Linked DNA regions of Homo sapiens. The protein of the gene in region 1 interacts with the protein of each later gene in a biochemical or structural test. Each region holds a gene or a part of one and is shown on either strand. Other genes may lie near its edges.

Region 1 (3,500 bases):
GTCAACAGGTATTTACAAGAACCACACAAGTCTTACAGCAGCTTCCCCTCTCTCTGCTTAGGATTATACCCAGAATCTCGATTCAAGGGCAGCCCCTTGCAGTGGGTCCAGTATTTAAAGAAGCCACATTCATCCACTGTTAAGACATTTTATTGCATTTGTTCATTGTGCGAATGTAAATTATTCTGTGAACCCAACACATATTCCCCATTTCCCCTCTTCCTTTTAACAGTCTCTCTGACATACGTATTTTTTGCTGAGATTGGACACTTCTGCATAACCCCATGGAAGCACTGATTATGCACCTTGCCACAAATATGGCCATTTCAACAAAGACTGCCTCCTCTGTCTGTGTACTCAAGACACCAGTTTTCTTAAAGTAACTATCAGGTCTAGCAGTCTCCAGCTACTAGGTGCAACTGTGAGGATGCAAGCATACTGACCTGACTCTACATTTCCCAGCATGGCTGGGGAGGCCATGGTGAGGGGTGCTTTATGGTTTGGAGGGATCCCAGGACTCTGAAGGGGAGGTTTTGGAGAAGAGGTCCATCCAGGTGACGGGGCAGGAAGTGATGGAGACTTGAGGTGGACAGGTGAAGCAGCAGCAGACCCCAAAACAGGGGGGGACTTAATGGAAGCAGCAGCAGCTGGGCCCGCCAGCATGCCTGCCAGCTGCGATGGAGTCTGGGGGGACTTGAGGTTCCCCGAGGGCGAGCCCAGCATTGGTGACTGGACTTGGTGCATCGTGGGAGACTTCAGAGGGTTAATGCCTGGGGAATGCACCTGGCTGCCTGCCACAGATATATCCAAGGGCTTCCGCCCCAGGCCGCGCTGAACTGGAGGAGCTGTGTTGAGGCTGGTGGGGTTACTGGAAGGGTTGAGAGGTAGTGGTGGCATATGACTGAGCCGGCTGTTAGTCCTCTGGTCGGGCCCAATTGGTTCTCTGAGATTCCGCAAGCCACTGTTGCTGCCTGGACCCTGAGACATGGGAAGGAATGGTCTGGGGCCCATGCCATACTCCTGCTGGGGGTGCTCACCAAATGGCAGTGGCACCATCTTCTGCTGAGCAGGCAGCATGTCTGAGCCACCTGGGCGTAATTTCAGCATCTCCTCAGGGCCCGCCCCAGCCTCTCTCATCTTCTGAGGTATCATCTGAGAGTTGGATCCCATGTTGACATTTAGATTGACATCTCCCTTCATCCCACTAGGAACCATCCCAAACTCAAGTTCCCGACCAGGGCCCATCTGTGGGGGAATTCCTTTTGGAAAGTCACCCCTAGAAGGACTCAGAGGGCCCTCAACTGGTATTCGAGGGAAAATGGGGTTATTCCCAGGCTCCATGTGGCGCTGGGAGCCTGGAATCATCCTGTTCATCTCCATGCTGGGCCTGATGCCTTCCATGGCCATCCCTGGGGGGAGACCCAGCTGTTTCTCTGCCAGCTGCTGCTGAAACATCTCTTCAGACAATCCTTGGGGGTTTGGGAAGCGTTCCCCTCGGCCAGGACCGCTGAAAATGCCCTGGCCAGGAGGAAAATTTCGACCATCTGGGATTTTTGGCACATCATCTGGCCAACTGACTCCAGAAAGACCTGGTCTAGATGCAGGGTTGGGGACATTCGGCCCTTCCATTTCAGAGTTTATCATGCCTGCAAATCCAGGGAGGCGCATCTGGCTCCCTGGCATGTTGGGGTGGGGAGCCATGCCCCTCGGGGGCAGAGAATGTGGCATGTTGATACCATCAGAAAATGGCTCTGTACCCCCAGGTGCCCAGCCTTCACTAGGGGTCATCTGGTATGGAGGGGGGGGTCCTCGGACCACTCCCCGAGGCCCGTGCTGATGGACCATCATGTCCTGGAGGGAACACTGCTGGACAACCACTTGTTCCTGCTTCCTCCTCTTCTCTTCATAAAACTCCTGCTGCAGTTTCAGCCACGCTATCTGCTCGGGAGTCATATGGTCAAGGTGGTCGGGTCCTATGGTCCCAGACTGGGAGTTCATAGAAGGTGGAACCATTTCATCTGGAGAAAAGGGTACATCTCTATGTCCTTGAGGGCCAAATGGAGCTCCCACGTCTGTCCGGGGCCCAGGTCCCTTACCTAGGCTTTGGGATTGGGCCATCATGGCCTGTATTGGCCCTTCTGGTTTTTTCTGAGGCCCATCTAATACCCCAGGATTCTGCTGCGGTCCCCCACTTTGTGCTCCTGTGAATTCTTTCTCATCAGGAAAAAGCATGCGCTGGATATCTCTGAGAGTTTGTAAGGAGCGCTCCCGGTGCTCCAGCTGCTCCTGAGATAGGCCATCGGGATTCTCTCCCAGTGTGGGGGGCTCGCCACTGGACACTGGTGGAGGCGGAGGGGCTTTGGGATCTGCTGAAGAGCTATTGCTCCCCTGGGAGACAGGGGTCACTGCCCTATTGTTGGGAGTTGAGTTGGGCCCAGTACCATCTGGGGGCAGTGGAGTGGAGCTGGCAGGACTTCCTACAGAAGGAATCAGTTTGTTTTCTACCCCAGGACTCTCCCGGTCCAGGGGACGTGGGGGTGCGGCAGGCTTGGGTGCTGGTGCCGGAATGGGTGGAGTTGGCTGCAGTCTGGTATTCTGGGAAGAATTCTGGTCCTGGTTGGCCGGAGCTGGGGGCTGTTGTGGGAGAGGTTTCGGATCATTCCGAAGGGCAGATATCTGTGTGTTCTGAAGACAAACAAATAGTTTAAAAATCATTAGTAAACTGAACAGAAGGGCAATTAAAAGAGCAAGATATGTTATAAAGGAATTGTCCCCAGGCACATAAATCTAACTGACACTGGCTGTAGAAATTGCTCACGTACAACCCTCTTTTGGGCATGGAGACATTTTGATTTTTTTTTTTTTAAACTTACTGTCAAATGGTATCCTCTTTCCCTTGCTGAAGATTAGGTTTCAATAACTTTAAAAGTATGCCAGGGGAGAGCCACTCTGCCAAAGTGAATACATTTCAGTATCTATTTTGAGGAACAGGTTTGATATCACATGTCTACTATGTGTTTCTGATTCAGAGAGAGATTAGTTTCTTGGTATGTGGGAGGCTGTACCTAACACCTTTTTCTTTTCCCTGAAAGTATAACTGGGTATGTAGACTTCTCATTGTCAATCAAAAGGCCTGATGTTGCCATCTTGAGAGAGAAAGCGTAAGTCACTTGCAGCTCTGTATTCTACCAGCCGAGGAAGCAGCTGCTCCATTTCAACGTCTCCTCTGGCAGGGTGACTACTGAGGCACTCCCCTCCTGGAGTTTCCAGGAGGCCTGACATCTCTGGTTTCCGTTTTTGGTTGGTGATCACTGATTCCACATTTGATAAGAATTTGTACATTAACTGTAGTGAGATAATCTGCAGGCAGGAAGCTTCTGTGGAGAAATCTGAGGCTATCTAGCTCATGGTGTCTCTTGAACTGTTCTTTCCAATAGGCAGTAGACTGCCCTTTTTTAATATGCTGGATGATTGCCTTATTATTGTTTATTAAGTACCAC
Region 2 (3,500 bases), on another chromosome or scaffold:
GGTAGAAGCCAGGGCTGAGTAGGACAGCACCTCACAACAAAGACTTATCTGCCCCAAACTGTCAATAGGGTTAAAAAACCCTGCCTGATCTCAAGTTGATCCCTCTGACCGGAAGTCCCTGCTCTAATTAATAGGGCCATGAAAATAGGACATCTTTGAAGACCTCACCCAATGCCAAACAATGATTTCTCCATCTCTCCTACTACACTTTTCACACCTCCACTTAATACAGCTGTAATTGCACTGTATAACTGTCTGGTTCACCATACTTCAGAGCCTTGAAAGCAGAGAATCATCTTTATATACCCTCTGGTGCCTAAAATGGCACAGGTTGAGCATCCCTTATCTGAAAAATCTGGAATCCAAAATGCTCCAAAATCTGAACTTTTTTTTTTTTTTTTGAGACGGAGTCTCGCTCTGTCACCCAGGCTAGACGGAGTGCAGTACCGCGATCTGGGCTCACTGCAACCTCCACCTCCTGGGTTCAAGGGATTCTCCAGCCTCAGCCTCCTGAGTAGCTGGGATTACAGGTGCACACCACCATGCCTGGCTAATTTTCATATTTTTAGTAGAGACGGGGGTCTCACCATGTTGGCCAGGCTGGTCTCGAACTCCTGACCTCAAGTGATCTGCCCGCCTCAGCCTCCCAAAGTGCTGGGATTACAGGGGTGAGCCACCGCGCCTGGCCCCAAATTTCGGATTTTGAATTTTCACTCACCCGCAAGTAATATTCCAAATATTCCAAAATATGGGGAAAAAATTACAAAATCGGAAACACTTCTGATCCCAAATATTATGGATAAGGCGTACTAACTGAATCTATATTAAATCAATGAATTCAATTCAATCACAGTAAGGTAGCACTGACATGATTCTCCTTCCCATAATGCACCGAGGATAACAAAGCAATCCTCAGCTGACATTGATATGGCTCAGATAACGACATGCACTGACATCAGACAAGAAACACACCAGGCACGGTGGCTCACACCTGTAATCCCAGCACTCTGGGAGGATGAGGCAGGTGGATCACCTGAGGTCAGGAGTTCGAGACCAGCCTGGCCAACATGGTGAAACCCCATCTCTACTAAAAATACAAAATTAGCCGGGTATAGTGGCACCCACCTGTAATCCCAGCTACTCAGGAGGTTGAGGCTGGAGAATCACTTGAACCCAGGAGGCGGAGGTTGCAGTGAGCCGAGATCACGCCATTGTACTGTAGCCTGGGCAACAAGAGTGAAACTCCATTTCAAAAAAAAAGAAAAAAGAAATACACCTGTAGTCACTACAGTAGGTTCCTCCTCCAACACTCAGTCTGGCCCCACAATCCCTCTTGCCTCAGCTCAGCATGCTCCAAGTCAACTCTTAAGAATCCTGGATAATTAATTATATCTACAAAGGACACAGTAAACAGATAATATACACACTAATTAAATGAGTAAATGAGATTTTCTATATTTTCAAAAGTCTGGACAAATGCTGTACATAGCCAGTATCCTCCTTTCACATTCCCGAAAATGTGAGAGAAGTCAAAAATTTCAAAAACGACAGTCACCTTTTTAGGGGTTTTTCCCACTCACAGAGTACAGAAACTTTTATTTCTAATTATACCCTCACCTTTCAAATGTAAACTTCATCATACATTTGCCTCACTTAATTCCTATTTCATTCTAATTATTGCATTCACTATTTGCACAAAGCCAACTAACCTAACCAATGAGCACAACCTAATCCAGTAAGGTTTAAGATTCATATCCCTAACCAGTTCCCTCTGTCTCAAGGATATTTAAGACCTCCAGGTAGGCCAGGCATGATGGCTCATGCCTGTAATCCCAGCACTTTGGGAAGCCGAGGCAGGCGGATCACCTGAGGTCGGGAGTTCAAGACAGCCTGACCAACATGGAGAAACCCCAACTCTATTAAAAATACAAAATTAGCTGGGTGTGGTGGCGCATGCCTGTAATCCCAGCTACTCAGGAGGCCGAGGCAGGAGAATCACTTGAACCCAGGAGGCGGAGGTTGTGGTGAGCCGAGATCGCGCCATTTACTTTTTTGTTTTCTGCTCATTCTTATAAAAAGGCAAAATACATCTGAACTTGCACATAAACACAAGATACTGCCGTACAAATACAGCAAAGCTGCTGAAACCAAACTATTCTCAGGCAATACCACCTTGCAATAAAAAGAAATCCCTTTCATCAGCTAATGTACAGAAGTTTGAACCTGACTTAAGGAAAGGAGGTTCAGAGTTGTTAACATATAGTGTATCAAATAGGAGGTCAAGCACAGTGGCTCAGGCCTATAATCCCAGCAACACTGGGAGGCCAAAACAGGAGGATTGCTTGAGGCCAGGAGTTTGAGACCAGCCTGGGAAACACAGTCAAACCCCTGTTCTCTAACAAAAATTAACCAGGTGAGGTGATGTCGGCCTGTGGTCCTACTTACTCGGCAGGCTGAGGTGCGAGGATGCCTTGAACCCAGGAATTCCAGGCTACAATGAGCTATGATTGCGTCACCACAATCCAGCCTGAGTGACAGCGAGACCCCTCCTCTTAAAAAAAAAAATCACTGCTCTTAACTAGGGGCTGGCAAACTATGGTAACAGACCAATTCCAGCCTCCTGTTTTTGTACAGCTCACAAGGTAAGAATGGATTTCACACAGAACGTCTGCAATCAATTTGATGACAGGGAACACTGAACTTTACCCAATAAAGCAAAATACTGTATTACCTCCCCTCCACACACACACACCAAATTGTTTTTCTCATTAGACCTAAGTTATACATAACTGTATTTAATTATATTTTTTATTTCACCAATAAAAATTTTACCCAATGTCCTCAATTTTGCCTCTTAGCCCACAAAGTCCAAAGTATTTACTATGTGGCCCTTTACAGAAAAAGTTTACTGATCCCTGTGCTCTGAACTCCAGAGATGTTACCAAGCAGAGCAACCAAAACTTTGTACACTACACCTCGACCAGAGAGAAAACACTGTTAGGCAGAAATGGGTTCAATACTATACGGTAACTTCCATGCTCTCTGGGGTCCAAGTTAATAATGAGCGGCCTTACTTAGGAGTTCTAAGTAACCAGTTAACAGAAAAGACTAGAAATGAGAGATGTAACCAACAGCCTCAACTTATAACTCTCAATAGCCACCAAAGTCAGCAGGAATAAAATGGACATCAAGGATACTAACAGGAGGCTTCGCCACTCCCTTTTTCCTTTCCACCCAATTCACAGGCTCTGTAGAAGATGGGATCTAATATGCACGATCACCAGCTCAAACTCATCCCAAGGAAAACAATTCCTTTGATTATGGTTGACTAACATGGTGTTCAAAGCTCACATGATTAATAAGAATAAACTGTAGGGTGCCATAAAATGAAGATGAATCAATTCTGTACAAGAGGTTGGAGGTACTGCAAGTTAAATACTGCCCCAGATTTTCCCATTCAGGTAATCAAATGGTTATTATAAACAGTATTATTCTAGGTG

Evidence for each region. The genes of interacting proteins can lie anywhere in the genome.
Region 2: the proteins of BCL9 (region 1) and USP9X form a complex in vitro, tested with the Homo sapiens proteins (one study listed by BioGRID).

The regions. Positions count from the first base shown.
Region 1 is NC_000001.11:147,618,001-147,621,500, reverse strand, and holds part of BCL9 (B-cell CLL/lymphoma 9 protein), read right to left. Parts: intron 2,686-3,500; coding exon 444-2,685; intron 1-443. UniProt on the Homo sapiens protein: Involved in signal transduction through the Wnt pathway. Promotes beta-catenin's transcriptional activity.
Region 2 is NC_000023.11:41,091,945-41,095,444, reverse strand, and holds part of USP9X (ubiquitin carboxyl-terminal hydrolase 9X), read right to left. Parts: intron 1-3,500.